Linked DNA regions of Homo sapiens: region 1 is linked to region 2. The links come from fine-mapping of genetic effects on gene expression. A gene starts in region 2. The other region holds a variant in brackets. All regions are shown on one strand. Distances are between the middles of the regions.

The links. PIP is the estimated chance that this variant, and not a neighbour inherited with it, causes the effect.
Region 1: its variant is the best candidate, but not a certain one, in a credible set for the expression of ZNF862 in whole blood (TOPMed, PIP 0.58).

The regions. Positions count from the first base shown.
Region 1 is chr7:149,867,825-149,873,196 of GRCh38, reverse strand. ATP6V0E2-AS1 (ATP6V0E2 antisense RNA 1) reads left to right here. Exons shown (of 4, transcript NR_027040.1): 2 at 1,401-1,555; 3 at 2,846-2,955; 4 at 3,339-5,372. It also overlaps a transcript of ATP6V0E2 not described here. Among named protein-coding and RNA genes, the nearest start is that of ATP6V0E2-AS1, 3.4 kb to the left of the region's middle. The variant C/T (reference allele first, on the strand shown) is at 3,038.
Region 2 is chr7:149,835,802-149,841,150 of GRCh38, reverse strand. It overlaps ZNF862 (zinc finger protein 862), which reads right to left and starts at 2,776. Exons shown (of 8, transcript NM_001099220.3): 1 at 2,516-2,776. The coding sequence starts at 2,539. RefSeq lists a silencer at 2,241-2,700.

The sequences.
Region 1 (5,372 bases), 32 kb before region 2:
CCTTCTTACAAGGTTGCTGGAGGATTAAATGAATAGGCATGTGGAAAGCACCTAGTATAATAAGGCTCGGTAGTTTCTTCCATCAGGGCTGGAAGAGACCACGGAGCCTGCTTTCCTCCTTCGGCGTTTGGATCTCACATATCCCTTCTTCTCTGGCGATCAAAAATCCCTATCTTCTGTAGAGATCCCTTTTACAGATCAGTGGCCTCCAGGCGGTATCTCTAGCAACAAGTGCTACCCCAAGCGGCCGGCCACACATATTCCCTGGCTTCATGACATAGGGAGGCGCAGTCCCCACGTGATGCAGAAGGGAAATGTGCCTGTCCTTGCACTGACCCCGTCAGCCATGTGTGCTCCTGGCTGTTTTCTGAAATCAAGAACCAGTTACATCCGCCCTTCTCCGTTCTCTAGTTGAAACCTCCCTATCCATCCTTCCAACATTCATGTAAGTTGGAGGTGGGCGTGGGATGACACCAAACTGTTAGGTATAAAATACCATCCTAGCCTTCGAGGGGTTTCTAAAGTAGTTGAGGAGTGATATATTCTGGTAAAATCATAATGCTGGACAGCGCAGTTCTAAGAGCCCTGTGATCAAAGTAGCCAAATGCCCATTATGAGAATTCAGAGGGTGGAGAAATCCAGGAAGACTCCCTGGAGGAGGTGAGATTTTAGCTGGATTGTAAACAATGGTTATTTTTCTCATCCAGAGTGTGTACATTGTTGAGAACACTGGCCTAGGATAAGGGTGCACTTGGCATCCAGGAGATAGAGTTAAGAGTATGTCCATACAGGCCTTCAAAAAATCACCACGAGGGCTGAGCGCAGTGGCTCACACCTGTAATCCCAGCACTATGGGAGGCAGAGGCGGGCGGATCACGAGGTCAGGAGATCGAGACCATCCTGGCTAACACGGTGAAACCCCGTCTCTACTAAAAATATAAAAAAATTAGCTGGGCATGGTGGCGGGCACCTGTAGTCCTAGCTACTTTGGAGGCTGAAAGGAGAATGGCGTGAACCCGGGAGGCAGAGCTTGCACTTGCAGTGAGCCGAGATTGTGCCCCTGCACTCCAGCCTGGGGGACAGAGTGAGACTCCGTCTCAAAAAAAAAAAAAAAAAAAAAATCACCACGAAAGTTCTATAGCTCAAAAAAGACGGACTTTTTGAATTTTGTTCTGGAAAAAAAAAAATCCTCTGTAGAAAATGACAGCTGTAAAGTGAAATGTATTTCCTTCTTTGCCTCTGCTCCTTTGTCTTGGCTTTGGCCAGAACCAAAAACATTGCTGAGTCTGAGCAGCCACTCATATTAGCAGCCTGCAGCTCTTACTCTTTTCCTTTAATGTCTTTGATGTTTCATTTCTGTCCTAATTTGCATGTGATTGCCTGTGTCATTTGTTTGGCAGCTTTGTGATGGTCTGAGGTCCATGAAGGGATTAAAACCAGGAACTGGCTCCTTCTCCAACCACTAAAGCCTCATCTGGGCCCACAAGCCCTGGCTGTTCCCTGGAGCGTGACTGGAAGATGTGAGCAGCTTTGTGCTGGAGCCCCATTTCCATGGGTAAACTGTTCACCTGATCAAACAGCTCCCCAGAGTTCCACAGTACCACATATTTATTTTCTAGAACTTTGTTTTTAGCTGAAAGGGATCTTAGAGGCTAAGGCAATCCTATCACTTTACAGGTGATAAAACTGAGGCCCAGAGAAGTGAAGTAACTTGCCTAGGCCCACACAGCTCATCAGTAAAAGAGCCAGAACACATGGCCGAGACTTCTCCCTAATCCAGCGTCTCCTCCACACTCCCAGCTCACCCCTAGGGTTTGTGCCCAGGCTGAGGACACTATTTTCAGAGGCACTAATGTGAGGCAAAGGGCATGTTACCAGACACAGCCCCGCCTACCCCGGTCCCCTGAGGTGGAGCTGTGCATTCCACTGGCTTCACGGTTCCCCTCTGCCCTGGCGGCTTCTGGTTGGTATTGGCGCCACCGACTGCTCTGCCATGGCTCCTCAGTGAGTGCTTTGGGTGTGATTGACAAGTTTCCATGACATCTCCCAGGGAGTGGGGTCCTGATGTTGGTGACATCTCTATCGTTCATCTTTTCATGGGGCTGATGAATTCCTAGAAAGGGTAGAAGGAGAAGGAGCCACTGAAAGAGGCTCTTTAAAACTTCCCTGAGTGTCCCCCAGTGCAAATGAACAGGAGCCCCAGGACACTTGAAGGCCCTAGGAAATCACACCTCAGAGCCACAGATGCATCCTAATGCTCTCTGCAGACGGGGCACGTGTCGGAGGTGAGAACAACAGCTCCAGATGTCTCTGTCTTTGCAAATAAGGCCTGTGACATTTAATGATGTAACCACCTACCTTCCACCCATTGTTCTGGTGGCCATGAGTAGAAGGAATTATACCAGGATGTGATAAGAAGGAATTAGGAGCTGGGAGTCTTGCTGGGTGAGGACCTTGGCCCCTTGCTTGCTTGCCATCTAATAGGGGCACTCCTGGCCTGTGGGGTCAGGGAGAACTAGACCCAGAGCATGGTTGTCTCTGTGACTAGTTGAGCCTGTTTCTCCTTCAAGGGCCCTGGCAGTGGGAAAACATATTATGACAATTGCACTGTTTTATCAGCCCTTGGCACTCCTGAAGTTGCCCTGAAATAAACATCCCTACCTGTATGCCAGGCCCTGCCTACTTCTGGAGCTCTCTTAGGTTTACAACCTACCCCCGCTGTCCCAAATTGATAGGGTGAGCCCAGGGCATTAAATGGGTGGTGCAAGTCAGGCTTCAGGACTGACACGGGTCTATGTGCGCTCAGTGTGGGTTGAGGGGCACTGGGCTGTCTTTCTCCCTACAGTGCATGCTGCTGCCAAACCAGAGATCACTTGTAGACTTGAAAGGGAACATGAGCTTTGGGTGAAGGATTCCCAGCCCCCAACAGAGGCCAAAAAGCTACCACCCAGCCAGGTAAGCCTTGATGGAACATCTCTTGCACAAAGATCACCATGTTCATTGAGCCTTTAGTGCCTCCTGGGCTCTGATCAACCCA[C/T]GAATCAGTATCTCCGCAGCACTTCCTGTGGTTTGGATTCAGGTTTTTTACTTCTGTTTCCTGCCTTTATGATAGGAGTTTGGGTAACCTGTGAGAAACACAGCCACAGTGTAAACCTCTTGAGACAAGCTACACTGATGGGACAATCAGGGTGAGGGCAATCCGGCGCCGTGGCTATGTCAGCTCATGTGTGCTCTTTCAGGAGGACATGTCTCACAGACACAGATCTTCAGCTCTGACATGCTCGATCTCACAAGCCCTTTTCTGAAACCTCCATCATGTGCTTTCTGATTCTCTACAGGCAGAAGGAACATAAAGTATGCATTTTATGATACGACTCAGCTTGGAGGGATGAAGTAGAAGGTCCTCACTGCACCTCATGGCAGGCTGCTGACGGCAGATATTTTACCGGGCTCACTGAACTGGGCAGTCAGGGAAGGGTCGGCTCCTGCTCTGTCCAGCTGTCTTCATAAGGGACTCTGTGACACTTTTTATAAAAATGACTTTGATTTCTGCATAAGAAGGCTTCCCAAGCTTGCTGTCTAGCAGTGGCTGCTACAGGGAATTATTCACATGGCAGCAAGAGAGCCCTGGCTCCCTGGACCAGGACATTCCCTTTGTGTGTGTTGGAATGAGAGCAGGAGGAGTGCTGGTCAGAAGCCCCTCCCCAGGGCTCTGGGACTTCAGTGTTCTCAGACAAACTGGGCCGCTCCTCTGAGCTGGGATGCTGACCCACACTTGGCCCCGGCTCTGGCATCCACAGGACGCTGCCTTATCCGTCATCTCGCTGGGGCTGGGGGCTAGAGGCTGAGCAGGTCACACTGAACAAAAGAAGTGTGTCCCCATCACTAGGCTAACATCTGAGTTTCTTCCACAGTATTTGGTAACACAGTCAGAAACAAGACTGAAGATGATTCTGGAGGCAACTGGGAACCCCCCAGAACGATTCTGCAGGCTTCTGGGAAGCTGAAAAACCCCAAGGCCAGACTGGCCTCAGAATGCCTGAGTCCTTTTGATTCCACTGGAAAAGCCATCCATCTGTGCCAAGTGTGTGGAGAGCTTCAAGAGCCATATAGCCCTGGCCACCATGAGCACAGCCACGTGGGGGAGTAGTCCTGAAAGTGTCCTGGTGTGGCAAAGGCTTTCCACTAAGTGGACCTCAGATGGCACAGGAAGACCCTCCTGGGGATGTGGGAGGACACTGCCTAGTGGGTGAGGGGCCGCTCTTTCAGGTGTGCACACTAAATGCAGAGACAGCCTCTCCTGGCTGCCAAGAAGCCTGTGCATGATCCAGGACCACAAAACACTTGCAAACTCACTGCCCAGAGGCCCTGTGCCTGTCTGGAGTGTGCCCAGTGTGTCTGCGCCCCACAGCTTGTCCTGGCCCGCCAGCAGAGCCGCAGCACTGCAGGGCCCTTCTGTTGTGAGTGCCAGGGCCCTTGCTGGCTGCCTGAGCAAGGCAAAAGGTTCAAAACAGGAAGTCTCTGGGCAGCTATTCCCAGGTGCAGAGGGGAGCAGCGGCCACACAGGTGCCAGTGTGGCAGGAGCTGCAGTCAGAGGCAGCATCTCAAGAGCCCTGGGAGCAGGGGCCAGCCACGTGAAGCCCACGAGTGTCGCTGGCACAGGGAAGGGACACGAGGATCACACTGACCCAAGAGAAGGCCCACAGTGAGGAGGCCCCACCGAAGCATCCCCAGCAACAGGGACTGAGGCATCTGAGGCAGCCAGCCCACTCGGAAAGGCCTGCTGACTGCACTCCAGATGTCAAGAGCACCCTTGGGAAAAAGAAAGGCAGGAGTGCAGCACTTTCTAGAGCCTCAGCTCACTTCTCTCCTTCTAGCTCCAGCCGGAGTGATGGAAGAGGCTGCGCTGGGAGCTGCCTCCCTGGGAGCCTACCCTGCCCAGCCTGAGAGTGGAGGCTACCAGCATCACGCTTCCCCTAGTGAAATCCATCTGTCCTGAAGGGAACCCTGGGACGGGGTCAAGGAAACCCTGTTCACCCCCACCACGGGGTCAGGTCTTCACCAAAGGGAGGCCGCACGGATTCCCAGTCGCAAACCCAAAGCCTTGCTGCCTTTGCCTCTGTTTCCATAGTTGTTTCAATGTCTTTTTTAAAAATCACATACACTCGAGTAAGACTGAGTCTCCTCACCGAAGAGATCTGGCTGTATCCCGAGTCTCTGAAACCTTTGCTCCAGTCCCGTGGGAGCGTGCCGTCCCGAGGATGTGGAGCCGCAAGGGCTCGCCAGAGGGATCTCAGGAGCTAGGCCTCAAGGAGCGCTGTTGAGTGACAGGTCTGATGCAGTAGCTTTTACTATTGGTGGAAATCGATGTT
Region 2 (5,349 bases):
CAACACATCTTACACTGACAGTTGGTTTTGTAATTACTTTATTTCATTCTTGTATGAAGTTCTCATTTCCCATATTAGAAAACAACTATCTTTGGGAAGGGTGAGCACCTTTCTGAGATACCCTAAAATCAAGATTATAATCAAGGGTGAAATTTCCAGTCTCTGAGGTTTCACTTAGTGGTTGGACAGGACACGGAATCAGGTTTCTCCTCTACCTCCCAAAATGTTTGTACAGTCATGTGTTGCTTAACAACAGGGATAAGTTCTAGGAAATGTGTCCTTAGGCAGTTCTGTCATTGTGGAACATCACAGAGTGTACTTATACAAAACTACATGGTACAGCCTACTACATATCTAGGCTATATGGTATATAGCCTTTTGCCCCCTAGGCTACAATCCTACACAGTATGTTACTGTACTGAAAACTGTAGGCCACTGTAACACATGGTAAGTATTTGCGTATCTAAACATAGAAAAGGTACAGTAAGAATATGGTAGAAAAGACAAAAAAAAAAAAAAGGTCCATCTGTATTGGGCACTTACCATGAATGGAGCTTGCAGGACTGGAAGTTGCTCTGGGTGAGTGAGTGAGTGAGTGAGTGAGTGGTGAGAGAATGTGAAGGCCTAGGACATGACTGAACACTTCTGTAGACTTTATAAACACTGCACACTAAGGCTACGCCGAATTTATCAAAAATTTTTCTTTCTTCAATAATAAATTAACCCTAGCTTATTGTAACTGTTTTACTTTATAAACTTAATTTTTTAAACTTTTGACTCTTTTGTAATAACACTTAGCTTAACACACATTGTACACCTGTACAATATTTTTCTTTAAATATTTTTGTATTTTTATTTTCCAGCAAACCATTCCATCAACAAAAAGTATTTTTCTTTATATTCTAATTCTATGAGGTTTTGTATTTTTAAATTTTTTTTTTTTTTTTTTTTTTTTTTTTTTTTACTTTTTAAGCTTTCTTAAAACCTAAGACACAAACACACACATTAGCCTAAGCCTACACAGGGTCAGGATCATGAAGATGTCACCAGGTGATAGGAATTTCTCAGCCCCACTGTAGTCTCAGGGGATTGTACGTGAGAGCGGTGTTGATGGAAACCTTGTTATACAGCGCATGACCGTATTTCTCTTCTCCCGTTAAAGGCTAAGAAAGCCTCTGACTGAACAGAATAGCTTGGAAATCAACTTCAAATCACTGATACCAATATCAATCCCAATATTTTATAATCCTTCTTCCCCCTACATTTTGCTTCTCTTTATTCAAATTCAGGTTCAATCTAAACCAATCTGGGGATATTTCCAAAGGGTAAGGGCCATAAGCTCCATCTTTGCTTGGGTTTTGTTGAGCTTTATTGGCTTGGACCACGTACTCTGTAGGTGCCGTGTCTGCTACATGCATCACTGTAGCTTGTGGAGGGAGGGAGGATGGAAGAGATGCTCATGCGAGAAATCACCTCTTTTGAAATTCAGAGTCCTTCCTAGTCTTCCCAGGAAAAACTACAGCATCAAAAGAACCTCATTATCCTTTTCTCTCTTTTCGTGTGGGACAACCCTTTCAGGCGTGTCCAAGTTATTGAAGTGAAAACTGCAGGAGAGCTCCTTGAGAAAGGTGATCATTTCCTATTTATCCTCATACTTCCAGCATCTCGTTCAATGCAAATCACAGATCACAAATGTTTATTAAATGGACAGTTTTTTAAGGGACTCAATAAACAGTCGAAAACGTTTGTTGAGAGAATTCTCCTCTGTGCCAAATAAGAAACAATACTCAAGAACTGGCAGCAAACAACATCCAGAAAGATGTTAGTCCCAAGAGGCTGCCACTGTCTCCAAGCTAATGTGCCCACAACCACACTGGTCTTGGATGACACGGCCTGGAAGCGCTGGCAATCCCGTCAAATCCCTGAACTCCGCCCCCAAGCACTTTCTTTCCACCTTTTCTTCCAACTCAAAGCCTCTTGCCCAAAGCCAATTTATGACACAGGTTTCTAAGCAATGCCCAGATATTCCATGAAGTACATAACCTAGAAACAGAAGTGGCAAAAAGCATGCCAGATGCCCTCTCTTTTCAGCCCTTTCTTGGTAAGGAGGATCTAGGCAGGGTCAAGCCCTCAAGCGTCCCACCCTGCAGCTCCCACTGGCGTCCGATCCAGACTCCAAGCCTTAGCAGGGCCTCTTCAAAACGCCGAAGGTGGTGGGGAAAACAGGAAGCACCTTCGCATCGCTCCACTCGGGGGTCACCCAACCCAGCATCGACCCAGCGGACGCTCGGCAGCTCGGGGAGGATGCGCGGACACCGAACGGAAGCGTCCGCTCCTCTCCGCCACCCTCCCGGGGTCGGGCGCCGAAGTGCGGGAAGAGAGGGCGGGCCGGCGAGTCCTTCCCTGCAAGCCTGGCTCATCTGCGGGGCCTCCGCCCGAGCCGCCCCGCCTCGCCCGAGCCCGGCTCGGGGATCCTCGGGAGGGAGCGGGCGGCCCCCGGGCCTTCCAGTCCTACCTTCCCCGACTCTCTGGGCTCCATGGCCCCGCTTTCGGAGGCCCGTGCCGCCCCCTCCCCCCGCGGCCTGGCCTGAGGATGCAGCCGCCGCGACCGCCCCGGGGACCCAGGCTCCCGGAGGGGGAGGGCACCCAGGTAGGGAGGGAGCGCGGCCCAAGAACTTCGCTCTCTCACGTCGGGGGGCGGTAGCGCCGGTGGACCCAGGATAAGCGCGCTGAGCTGAGACTTGCGTCGCACCGAGCGAACAGCTTTACGGTCACTGCCCAGCCCCAGGCGGCGGGGCGTGACGGGAAGTGTAGTCCGCTCTAGGTGAGCGGCTCTCGAAGCTGCTATTGGCTCCCGGAACGCAGGTCCTGATTGGACGCCGGCGGCGCGCTTGCGACCCTCCCCGCCTCCCTCCGGCGACAGTTACTAGGCAACGGCGGCGTGGCGTCCTTTAGTCCTCTGCAGCAAGGGCAAAGCGCTCTGATTGGGCTACGCGAAGGCCAATGTCAGCCTTGAAGTTCTAGGTTTTCTTTTATTAAGGAGGGCAATACTTTTTGTTCTATTCACTCAAAAAGTATCATTGGTTGCCTACCATGGGTCAGGCCGTGTTCTAGGGTTTGGGAGAACACAGTTGAATGAGACAAAGGCCTTGCCTTCAAGGAACTCACGATCTATTAGGGAATCAGACCAGAAACAGATAATTACAAAACAGAGACAAGGGCTATGAAAGAGGTAAGCACAAAACATGAATTAAAGCCCGCGTTGTCACCTTAGAGTGAAGCGGTGGGGGATATGAGGTGCTTAGTCAAGGATTTCCTGCGGAAGTGATGCCTCAGCAGAATTAAAGCAAGAGGTAGGGTCTGCCAGGTAAAGGAGGTGCAATGGACTGACCGGTGTTCCCCTCCCAGGAGATGGGGCGTTTGGGAGGTTTAGATGAAGTCGTGAGGGTCAGGCCCTTATGGTGGGATTAGTGTCCTTATAAGAAGTTTTGTCCAAGTGCGGTGGCTCACACCTCTAATCCCAACTCTTTGGGAGGCTGAGACAGGAGGATCACTTGAGCCCAGTAGTTTGAGACCAGCCTGTGCAACACAGTGAGAGATCCCATCTCTATAAAAATAAAATAATTTTGTGAGGTGGAAGGATCACTTGAGCCTGGGTGGTCGAGGCTGCAGTAAGCCGGGATGGCGCTTCTGCACTCCAGCCTGGGTGACAGAGCAAGACCATGTCTCAAAAAAAAAAAAGACTTTTAGGGGGCCAGGGCAGGGATGTGCCTTCATGAAGGTGTTAGTGACCACATGCGTGCTGGGGGAACTAGCTAGGCCCTTTGCCCTTCTGCCCCTCTGCCTTCTGCCATGTGAGGACAGAGCAAAAAGGTGCCCTCCTGGAAGCAGAGACCAGGCTCTCACCAGACACAGACACTGCTGGTGCTTTGATCTTGGATTTCCCAGCCTCCAGAATCATAAGAAATAAGTATCCATAATTTATAAATTACCTAGTTCCAGGGATTTTGTTACAGAAGCACATAGAGATTAAGACAATGGTCAACTAATTTTTTTGTATTTTTAGTAGAGACAGGGTTTCACCATGTTACACAGGCTTCAAGTAAGCGTTTTCCATTATCCAGCTCTGCTCTTCTGGCCAAGGTTGAATAGACCTAAATTCCGTTCGAGGAGTGTAGGGGAGTCTGCATTACTGAAAAAAAGAATGAGACACAAGAAATGTGGAGGAGAAGGCAGAGAGTGAGGACTCTGTGGATTCCAAGTGGCCTGCCACTCACCACCTCGACTATATCACTACCTTGAAGAGCTATATTTCTGCCCATGAGTTATCCATGTCTTTATAACAGATTCTCTTTTAGGGGTTAAAAAACTGGAGGACAGCTAGGGTAAATCATTCTTTTGACACATTTTTCCATAAAAGGTTTTCCATCTTTCCAAGAAAAATGGAGCAGTATCTAGGGGGAAATGGGGAATCAAAGCAGTAGGACTAAGATATGAGTCACAAGATCTTGTTTCTGTGTTGATGGGAAGGAAACTGATGATTCAAAGGGGGATAGTGCAAGGAACCAAGTCCTTGAGAAATCAGGAGGGTCTAGGAACAGGGTATCGAGGGCCCTTCCTAGGGATAGGAACACTTTTTTTTTTTTTTTTTTTTTTGAGATGGAGTCTCTCTCTGTCACCCAGGCTGGAGTGCAGTGGCTCAATCTTGGCTCACTGCAACCTCCACCTCCCAGGTTCAAACAATTCCCCTGTGTCAGCCTCCTGAGTAGCTGGGACTACAGGCGTGCACCATCACACCCTGCTAATTTTTGTATTTTTAGTAGAGACAGGATTTCACCATGTTGGCCAGGCTGGTCTCGAACTCCTGACCTCAAGTGATTCACCTGCATTGGCCTCCCAAAGTGCTGGGATTACAAGCCTGAACCACCGCGTCTGGCCGGGATAGCAACACTTTTGGTTATGCCAGGAGGGAAGAAGAAGATGGAGTAGATGTACATTTGTTTGTAGATTTACTGAGGGAATTTCCATCCGATGATGTCTCTTTGAGACAAGATCATCTCATGAAAATGAAGTGGGGAATAGAAGGTATACCAAGTCATCTTGGAGAATGGGAAATAGAGCTTACCTCAAACCTTGAATTAAAGGCCAATTTGAAGTTTATGATCACAAATTTCAGTTTAAAAAAAGCCTGGCTGCGAAATTCTGTTTAGAAGCAGAAAGTTGGGTAGATATTTGGCTTCATCCTGGCTTGGAGTATTGCCAGGTAGGTATGAAGGAGGCACAGAAAAGCAAGGGAATGAACAGTACTTGCAGGAGTAATTATGATGGTAGGAAAGTGATTCTCAATTC